Linked DNA regions of Homo sapiens: region 2 is linked to region 1. Evidence: fine-mapped expression QTL. A gene starts in region 1. The other region holds a variant in brackets. All regions are shown on one strand. Distances are between the middles of the regions.

The links. PIP is the estimated chance that this variant, and not a neighbour inherited with it, causes the effect. A credible set is the group of variants that fine-mapping cannot tell apart.
Region 2: its variant is the best candidate, but not a certain one, in a credible set for the expression of CLASP1 in skeletal muscle (FUSION, PIP 0.66).

The regions. Positions count from the first base shown.
Region 1 is chr2:121,646,697-121,652,223 of GRCh38, reverse strand. It overlaps CLASP1 (cytoplasmic linker associated protein 1), which reads left to right and starts at 2,762. Exons shown (of 41, transcript NM_001395891.1): 1 at 2,762-2,852. It overlaps NIFK-AS1 (NIFK antisense RNA 1), which reads right to left and starts at 2,570. Exons shown (of 4, transcript NR_037857.1): 1 at 1,843-2,570; 2 at 1,542-1,756. RefSeq lists enhancers at 2,252-2,521, 2,553-3,179, 3,180-3,808.
Region 2 is chr2:121,456,621-121,461,620 of GRCh38, reverse strand. It overlaps CLASP1 (cytoplasmic linker associated protein 1), which reads left to right. Exons shown (of 41, transcript NM_001395891.1): 11 at 428-520; 12 at 1,496-1,641; 13 at 2,646-2,781; 14 at 3,864-3,934. Among named protein-coding and RNA genes, the nearest start is that of CLASP1-AS1, 71 kb to the left of the region's middle. The variant C/AC (reference allele first, on the strand shown) is at 2,470.

The sequences.
Region 1 (5,527 bases):
GCACGCCAGCCTGGGCAACAGAGTGAGACTCTGTCTCGGAAAAAAACCAAACAAACCCAAAACAGTTCTTTCATCATGTTACTATGCCTAGTCACGGACCTTAAACAATATAAAGTATGAATTTCTATACTTGGTTTCAAAATCTCCCACATTCTATTAATACTAATTTTTGAGACGGAGTCTCGCTGTCGCCCAGCTTGAGTGCGGCGGCGCAATTTCCGTTCACCACAACCTCCACTTCCTGGGTTCAAGCATTTCTCCTGCCTCAGTCTCCTGAGTGGCTGGGATTACAGGTGTGTGCCACCGTACCCGGCTAATTTTTGTATTTTTAGTAGAGACAGGGTTTTACCATATTGGCCAGGCTGGTCTCGAACTTTTGACCTCAAGTGATCCACCCACCTCGGCCTCCCAAAGTGTTGGGATTATAGGCGTGAGCCACTGCGTCTGTCCCCACAAGCTATTAAAATTAGGGTTTTTCTTTTTTTGTTTAAGACTAGCCAAGTGCAGTGGTTGAGAAGTGGAGCACAAGGAGAACAAGGAGTTTGGTCTGTAACTGGCAGTGAACAATCAAGATAACTTACTATCTCTGTATTACCCTAAAAGGATCTTGAAGAGTTATCTGTACACTCATGTTTGAAGCAGTATTATTCACAATAACCAAAAGGTGGAAATAACACAAGTGGTATATACACACAATGGAATATTATTTAGTCTTAAAAGGGAAGGAAATTCTGACACATGCTACAAGATGGATAAACCACAAGGAGATTATGCTATGTGAAATATGCCAGTCACAAAAATACAAATACTGTATGATACCACTTACACGGGGTACACAGTCAAATTCACAGAGACAGAACTAGAATGGAGGTTACCAAGGCTAGCTGGAAAATGGCGAATGAGAAATTGTTTAATGGGTTCGGGGTTTGTTTTGCAAGATGAAAAGAATTCTGGAGACTGGCCGCACGAGGTAAATATACTTAATACTAACGAATTATTCACTCAAAAATGGTTAAGATAATAAATTTTGTTGTGTAGATAAAAAAATTTAAAAATCGATTCCATCTTTCTCATCAAATCTTACTTTTTACTCTTTGTTTCTTTTTTTCCCATTTCAGTTAGATTGCTCTCTTCATTGTACTTCCAGTATGCCTCTTGAGCCTTTGCACCATGGTGTTTCTTCTCTGGAATGGTCTTTCATTATCACCCATCCATTTTCAAAAGGTTGCATGTGCTTTCGTTCCAAAGACATTAGTTTATAGATCCAACCAGGAGTCGCATCCTCCATGTCATCCCTACTCTTTCAAATCACATACCTCTACCTTTTCTGCACTACACAGAAGGGCCTACACACGGCTTTCATACTTTAGCTTAGCCTCTCCGACCATACCTCCTAAGACCCTGAGGATCAGGGGGCATTATCTCATAGTTCTCCCGCACTTCTCTCCCATCCCAACACATACACTAGCAAGGAGCTCCGCACACAAGCTCCTCCAGTAAAAACAACGCACTGGGCAGTGCATCTCAACACATCAAATTACCGGCGTGCATAGGAGCCTGATGCGGCAAATCTGTGGGTCCTTCGGGATCCTTGAAGGCAGCCCTATAATTTGCATTTTTCTACGCTCCAAAACACTTTCCGGGCCAGATGCGGTGGCTCACTCCTGCTGTCCCAGCACTTTCGAAGACCCAAGACGGCGGATCACTTGAGGTCAGGAGTTTGAGACAAGGCTGGGAAACATGGTGAAACCCATCTCTACAAAAAAATACAAAAAGTAGTTGGGGGGGGGTGGTGCACGCCTGTAATTCCAGCTACTCGGGAGGCTAAGGCAGGAGGATCACCTGAGCCTGGGAAGTCGAGGCTGCAGTGAGCCGTGATCGCGCCACTGCACTCCATCCGGCCTGGGCGACGGCGGTGAGACCCTGTCTCAAAAAAATAAAAGCCACCACTTTCCCACTTATTATCCCAGGGAAACGCACGCGACGGAGGAGCGAAGGAGCGTTTATTTGTGGAGGCGCTCAAGTAAGAAACCCTGCTCGCTGGCCGACTCAAGGGTCTCCAAAGCCTTCTCTGGGCTGTCTCCCCTCCCCAAAAGGCAAAGAACCGTTAACAAGTTTACTTCCGGCACAAGCGTCCGCGCCTGCTCGGAAAAGGGAGCGTGGACACACAGCTCTGTTACGGGAAGTCGCAGGGCACAATTTCCTTCATTGCAGTCGCCCTCTGGGCGGACGCCCTAACCCAGAAGTGAAAGACCGTTTCCTTCGAGTATCAGACCCCCGACCAAAGGAAGTTCCACTTGGACGACTTTTACCCAGGGTTTCCCGATTCCTCTTTAGCTCTTCCTATCACGCTCCCTGCTTGCTGGTGCATTGTTGCTGTGGCCACTTAGTTCCGACCTTCCTTGTCTAACTCGAGTTTTGTCGCAACTTTCCAAGGGGCCTAACCACAACCTTTTCCGTAAAAAAAAACAAAAACAAAACCTTTACCCTACGGGTCCCCATCAGGGTCAACTAACGTTCTCCGTGAGGGGCAAAGCTCCCGGGGACTTTACGCCAGCGAAGCCTAACACGGCCAGGCCAGCGCCTGCGCGGGGCGTTACCATAGAGAGGCAGCCGCCTCTCTGGTCTCGGTTTACGCTCTCTATGGTGTACCCGGGTTGGTGGCGGTAAGAAGAAAAAGGGTGACCGCACTGCGCAGGCGCCCTCGGCGTCTCTCTCGCTCTCTCGGTCTTTTTTTTTTTTTTCTTTTTTTTTTTTTTTAATCCCCGCACCAAGCGCTTAACCTCATTGGGGTGGAGGAGAAGGCGGCGGCTCTCTGGTCCGCAGCGGCAACAGTAACGAAAAACAGGGCTGTAAGTACCCGGTCAGGGGGCGGAGGGTCAGACCCGAGCCCTCTCGCGGCCCTGGCCCCTCCCGCGCAGTGGCGGGCGCCGGGTCTGGGTGGGGGCGATGTCCAGCGCTGTCATCGGCTCTTGGGTGCACTTTGGGGGGATGGGGCGGCCCTGAGGTGGGAGCCTGGCGAGGAGCGGGATGCGAGGGTTGTTTATCCAACCAGTAGGTCGCTGAGCCCAGGCTGCTTTGCAGAGGGAGGGGATCGGCCCTGGGGTCAGTCGGGCTTTGTGTGCCCCTCTCTGTTTCCCTTTTCCAGACCCCACCCGGGCCCCCTTCCTAACCCGAGTCTCCCCTGCCGGGTGGGAGAAGCCAGCGAGCCCGGGGCGCGTTTGAAAGGAAGGGAGGGGGCGAGGGAGAGAAACCCACAACAACTAGTCATTGGCGAGTGATGGGTGTGAAGAAAGATCCAGAGAGAAGGGGTGCCGGGAGGCGGGCGGCCCGGGCTCCCGTCCTGGGCTCCCAACCGGGCCAGACAAAAGCTGCGCGAGCGGCGCCGAGCGGAGCGGCCGGCTTGATGGGATGCACAAGGTCCCCTTGGTTCCCGGGGCCTTCGAAGAGCTTCTTTCTGAAGCTGGGAAAGCGAACAAGTGCTGAGTTAAGCCTGTGCAGACTTCTCAACTTGCCTTTGTTGTTCTTTGGTATTGGCAGAGACGCTCTGACGAAGATGAGTGTGTGATCTTGCACGTTAGCCTGGCTAGGTACAATGGAGCTAATCGAATTTTGCTTTCCGTTTTCCGAGCTGCTGGGATGAGTATGGGGCTTTCCAGAGTTTAAATTATTACATAATATTTTTAAAATAGTTGTTTGCTTCTAAAATTAAAAAAAATTAATGTGGAGTCTGAAAGCACGCTGTGGTGAGTTTGCAGCTGAGTTTGCAGCTGGGTGAGTTTCTGTGTAGTGGGGTGCGTTCATTAAATACTGACCATTCGTAGAACCTGTGAGCTCTTTAAACATGATACTTTCATTTGTAGATGTGGCAATGAGAGCTTCAGATTCTCTAGTCCTTTGGGAGACCGTGATGCAGAAGAGTCAGAAGCGAGAAATAGTTTCATGCCGCCATGTACCTTGGACCCTATTTGGGTGCCACAGTCCGTTTTCAATTCTGGCATTAGAAATTGTTTTTATTACTACGATTATTTACGACGGTAACTGACCTCTCGATATGAGGGATCCTGGATATTGGCTCCGTTTGCTCATCAAGGGATTGGGAGAATAGCAACATTGATGTTGCGACCATATAGATAAAAAGTAGCACAGTGCCTCAGAGTATTGAATATTATTTATTTTTTACATTTGTTAAGAAATTTAAATTTTGATGATCTGGTTATCTTGTTAAATTGTGTAATACACCTTTTTAGCAGTTGTTACTGAAATCTCAGTTTCTATAATTCATTGTTTATTATGGGCTACCTTGTAACACCATTTTAGACTTCTAAAGTTTTAGTTTTTATGAAGGAGTTTTCAGCCATAGCTTTTAATTCTCCCAGGTAAGGTTAACCAAAGTCAGGACTCCTTAGAGGAGACTTTGTTGGTGGTGGAGGTGTCAAATATTGTATCTCTGTGTTACAACTGAATTGGCAAATACAGAAAAGGCTTTTGCTAAGTTTTCACCATAAATTTGTGTTAGAACGGAAAACCCAGATCTCCTAGTATGTCAGGCTTTTGAATTAACCCACAGATTCCACTTTATTTATGTAAAAGAGGTAAACTTTTTTTTTAATTGATAGCAAGTAAAACTCTGAAGCCTGGTGTATTATGCTTAAGTAACTAGTGGGATAGAATCTCTTTAAGTGTAGTTCAGATGATGGGAACTTGCTTTTTATAGAGCAAGATTTCAGACCCTTAAAATAGTTTGACAGGGATGTTGAGAAATGATTGGCCAGAAGAACATGAAGTTTGTCATTTAAGTGTGTTATATTTTGTTTACTGGTTTTATTTATTATTTATTTTTATTTTTATTTTTGAAACAGAGTTTCACTCTTGTCGCCCAGGCTGAAGTGCAATGGTGCAATCTCAGCTCACTGCAACCTCCACCTCCTGGGTTCAAGTGATTCTCCTGCCTCAGCCGCCTGAGTAGCTGGGATTACAGGCACCCACAACCATGCCCAGCTAATTTTTGTATTTTTAGTAGAGACAGGGTTTCACTATGTTGGCCAGGCTGGTCTTGAACTCCTGACCTCCTGTGATCAGCCTGCCTTGGCCTTCCGAAGTGCTGGGATTACAGGCGTGAGCAATCGCGCTCGGCCCATGTTTACTGGTTTTAGATTTAGATTTTTTTTTTTTTTTTTTTTTGAGATGGAGTCTCGCTATGTTACCCAGGCTGGAATGCAGTGGCGCGATCTGGGCTCACTGCAAGCTCCGCCTCCCAGGTTCATGCCATTCTCCTCCCTCAGCCTCCCGAGTAGCTGGGACTACAGGTGCCCGCCACCATGCCCGGCTAATTTTTTTGCGTTTTCTTAGTAGAGACGGGGTTTCACCGTGTTAGCCAGGATGGCCTTGATATCCTGACCTCATGATCCGCCTGCCTCAGCCTCCCAAAGTGCTGGGATTACAGGCGTGAGCCACCACGCCTGGCCTAGATTTAGATTTTTTGCTTCCGTCTTGTTTATTTTCTTAAGTAGCTTAGTGTCTTGAT
Region 2 (5,000 bases), 190 kb after region 1:
TATACCCTGTACCTTACCTGTTTTCTAGGTAAGATGTGGGGATAAATGAGAAAGTAGATTTGAAACTGTTTAAATTTATAGGTATAGTGTCATGTTATAAATAATACTAAGTGAGAAATGACTTAGGCATCACTGGCTGTTTCCCATTAGCCTTGTTTCTCTTTGTACATGAAATCATCTGTTAAGTTTATAGTAAAGCTATGTTTGAGGCAGGGTTATTCACATATGGCAGCAAATCTTGTGGGTACACATTTGTAGTGAGAAAGATCCTCATTATAGACAAAACTGTTCAGATATTTTCTCATAGGTATTTCTTAAAAAAATAATTTCTTTTACCATACTTAATGTTCTTGACTTCATGTAATTAAGAAATAATCTGTTTATTCTGCATGTTTTTATATTGATTGTAAATTAATTTTGCTTACAGATTTATTCCAGCCGAGACCTTGAGGAATCCATAAACAAAATTAGGGAAATATTATCTGATGACAAGCATGATTGGGAGCAGAGAGTAAATGCTGTAAGCTGTTGACTTCATGTGATTACATTTTCATAAGATGTATTTAAATATCTCAAATACTTTATTGTGAAATTGGGACAGCTCTAATGAATTCTAAATAGTACATATTTTAAGTTCAAATTATCATATTTATACTTCACCTTTTTAGTAGAGTGTCTCCTTTTATTTTTATTTTGAAAACACACCAACTTACACCTTTATGAATCGCCTAGTCTTTTAACAAAGACCTGACTGTGGAATGTATGGTAATAGTCTCCACTCTCACCTTAGCAGAAATTTCATTCTGTGATTGTTTGCCTTTAAGGTGGCTTTTTTGTGGCATTTTTAGTGTATGTCTCCAATATTCTTTTCTTTCTTCTTATCACTTGCTAGAAAGTTGTGTCTCCTTTATTTTTAAAAGTAGATTAATGGAAAGTGGGCTCAGCATTAAAGTGAGGGTGTGTCTTATCTGAGAAGGCTATTTTCTACTGGTTGGCTGGCAAGAAGAGAAGTGGTACAATTGCCATTATATTGTATTTCAAATTCAGACCAGCCATTTAATGGTTCAGTGGAGGATAATAAATACTATAGGAATGCTTCTTCCTTTGATTCTTAAATAAATGGCAGTTGAAGTGGGGTGTCGCGGGGAGGTAAGCTTAGGAGGGGATTTTCACAAGCCAAAAGTTTTTAATTATTTATCATTAGTGTTGTAGGATCTATAAATACTTTAAGATATTTCAAATGTAAAACTTTTTTTGCAGAAATTATAGTATATGTGTCACAAATACTCTAGTTAAAAATTATTTAGTCTTATTTGTGATATGTAGATTTGTTTATTGTATTAGCTAATATTTAACTGGCTGAATTCTTTTGGGAAAGCTTTCTAATCAGTTGAACTTTAACAATGATCTCTTTTGTATTTGATGACTTCTTTTGTTGTGTATAGTCTGTGTTAGAATTGTTTTCTATTTTTCTGAATTTTCTCTATTCCATTAGCTAAAAAAGATTAGATCTTTACTTTTGGCTGGTGCTGCTGAGTATGATAACTTCTTTCAACATTTGCGTCTTTTGGATGGAGCCTTTAAACTCTCTGCTAAGGACCTGCGGTCTCAGGTAGTGCGGGAGGCTTGTATCACGTTGGGGTAAGGACTGCGATGCTCCATATTCTCACCATAAAATAGTGTCACCACAGAGCTTCAGAGATGTCTCCTTGAACATGTGAGCTGGGTCTCTTTAATGTAACTTCTGACTAGTCTCCAAGACCCATTCCAGTTAACACTTCTTTCAGTAGTTTTACAATACTTTTTGCTCAATTATGTGAAGTGTGACAGATTTTAAATTTTATTCAGTGACATAGCTCTGAAGTCTTTATTTCAAACTTTGAAGCAGTTATTAATATGGAAAAGTGAAATTCTATAAAATCCTGTTTCTCTGATTTTTCATTGATTTTTGCTGGCAGGCAATAGCGTGTTTATCAGAATGTTTGTTCCTAGAAGAGTACTGTAGTTATAAAGTTAAAGGCATTTACTGCAGTAAGATTTTATTCTAGCTGTACGTGTACTAGTGATCAAAGCTATTAAAACTTTGTGTTAGAATGTATGTCGGAATATCAAAGCAGCAGCAGCAGCAGGAGGAGGCATTGCAGCTGTTTTAAGTTTTGGCTGAAGTCAGATTTTGAAGCCTGAATATTTTATGTTAAGATAAAAGAAAAAAGAAAAAGGAGCCAAGGGTGCTTTTTCATATTTGTGTTTTATTAATATATAATCAGTTTGTTTGCTATTTTAAGACTAGCTGGGGCAGGTGGGCTGGTATGTGCCTGGAGTCCCAGCTACTTGGAAAGCCAAAGTGGGAGGATTGATTGAGCCCAGGAGTTCAAGTTCAACGTGGGCAAGGTAGTGAGATCCTGCCTCTAGAAAACAAACAAAAAGCTCCACAGACTAGTTGGAAATGTTTTTTTTTAAAAAAAAAAA[C/AC]AACAAAACTTTTGGGCTAAGAACTATTTGCCAAGTTCTTAACATGCACATCGGAAATCTCAGACCCTTGTCCTTTCTAGATAACTTTAAATGAAGGCTCTAGATGTTAAGTGGTTTATATGCTTCACTGTCTCTAAGAAAAATAACTATAGTCCAGTATCCTTTTCTTGTTTTAGGCATCTGTCATCAGTTCTGGGGAATAAGTTTGACCATGGAGCTGAAGCCATTATGCCAACTATCTTTAATTTAATTCCAAACAGTGCCAAAATTATGGCCACATCTGGTGTTGTAGCTGTTAGGTTAATTATTCGGGTAAGTATGTTATAGGCCATGCTTGAAATAAGCAAGTGGTAAATACTGATGGTTGATAAATATTAGAGGCATTTTTGTTAACATAATTATATTGAGTCATTAAATTTATTAGCATAATTATATTGGAATTTTGTATATATATCATCTTTTCCCCCTACTTAATTGTGGCATGTGAGCTTTTTATAATCCATAATGTGAATTATGGTTGTGTTATAAAGTTAATGAGGTATTGATTGTTAACTCACTATTGGTTTAAAATGTTCGAACATCCGGTGTCTGCTTCTGAGTTTATATTGTATTCTTGTTACTCGGATATTACTCTTAGTCTTACCTCCTTAGTCCCAGTCCTTCCGTTTTAGGTATTGGTGCTTGTGGTTTTACTGTTCACCCAAAAGTTTAATTAATTGCACATAAGCACGAAACAAAATGTTCTCTTTGGTTAGGTTTTCTAGGCACTTGTTTGTTTAAATTTAAATAATTATCCAAGTAATTTATACACAGGTTTTTAACAAAATCTAATAGTTCACAAAGGTTTAAAATGGTTTTCCACATTACCTCCCCACCACTTTCAAGTCATTTTTGCCCAGAGGCAGCTCTTGAAACTTTGAGGCTTGATGATGTTGTCTAAAATCTATCCAGAATATTCTTGATTATTGGTTATTTACTTTGTATTATAAGTTCTTACTGTTCTTACTTGCACTGCCTGCTTTAACTGTTAAACCCAAGGTCATTATTGGACATTTCTATTGAAATAGTATCAAAATATATTGGTCTGATGACTCCTTTCAAACCCACTCCTTTTAAACCCACTCAGATGTCTACAGCTGAGATAATTTAGACCTCATACTAATGATTGTTTTAGGCTTATCTTCATGTCATCATGTTGCCTGTTCTTAACTCTGTAAATTTTCTAATGGCTTTTGACAATATCCTGTGAATTCTTTTTTTCTTTTAAAACTCACTGACATTCTAATCTGAATATATATGTGCTATAAGTAGGTTAGTAAGGAAGTGATTCTCTTAATTTTGTTTTGTTTTTGTATTTGCAAGTGTTGACCTCTGTTTTTTGTTGTTCTTCACAGCACACACACATCCCTAGGTTAATACCTGTCATAACAAGCAACTGTACCTCTAAGTCTGTCGCAGTTAGAAGGTAAATTTTAAAGGATTTTCTCATTGTTTTTGAATTGTTTAAAAACCAAAACAAATTCCAAATCTCCTTCCATGGATAAAATTTCATGTATAACATGCTTAGTATTACTTAAAATCACTGCAGTAAATGACTTTGAGTTGAAGAATCAAGATCTAAATATTTTGGGAAATGAATGTGGACAACCTCTATTATGTTTCTGTGTGTGTGTGTGTGTGTGTGTGTGTGTGTATGTCTGTGTGAGAGAAAGTGAGTTTGGGTGTTAGTGGCAGAAGGAGAAGGGGAGAGGACTCCCTGTACATTTTTTTCCTGTGATAATCCTCCTACCTTTGTCATCGGTCTGCCCTATTCCCTGAGTAAAGGCAGTAACTGCATGCAAGAAAAAAATACCGTAAACATCAATGGCAATAGTTTTGTATTAACATAGGTGAGGGGAAAGGTATGTGTTTGCATCTTCTGTTAGCGATTTCTGGGATTCTGAATCTTCACTGTCACTTAGTTCTGTGCAGTTGTGGGAGATATACCCAGAAGACACAGGCAAATACAACCTGGGTAACTAGCTAGGGGTTTGTTCCCAAGTCCCTATCTTATATGTCCTGGCGAGCTGCCCTAAACTACGTGTGAGGAATAAAGACTGTGTTCTTTCAGCTCAGACCTGTGATTCTTGAGTGTTTTAAGAGTCTTTTAAAATCTATGAACCCTCTTTCCAGCAAGTCGTAAATGTACAGAATAGTTTTGTGTAGGTTTTCAGGGAATTCATGAATACCACTAAAGCTGTTCCAGTAGACTGTATTGGGAGTCTTATAGGATAATTACTGGCAGGCTTGGGCAACCTCTTGGCCCCATTCCCTTAGCTGTGTGTCTTGATGCTAGCCCTGTGAAAGAGTCCTTCACTCTTAAGATTTAGAGCCCAGATGACCTTTGCCAGCCGTTTACCTTTTTTCCTGGGGTGTCTTGTTGATCCTGCTGGGTTTCTATGGGTACAAGACCCTCTTAAACATGAAGCAGCTCTATATTTGTCGTTTTAAAATTTATTTTATTATTTTTAACAAATTGGCCAGAGACCGCC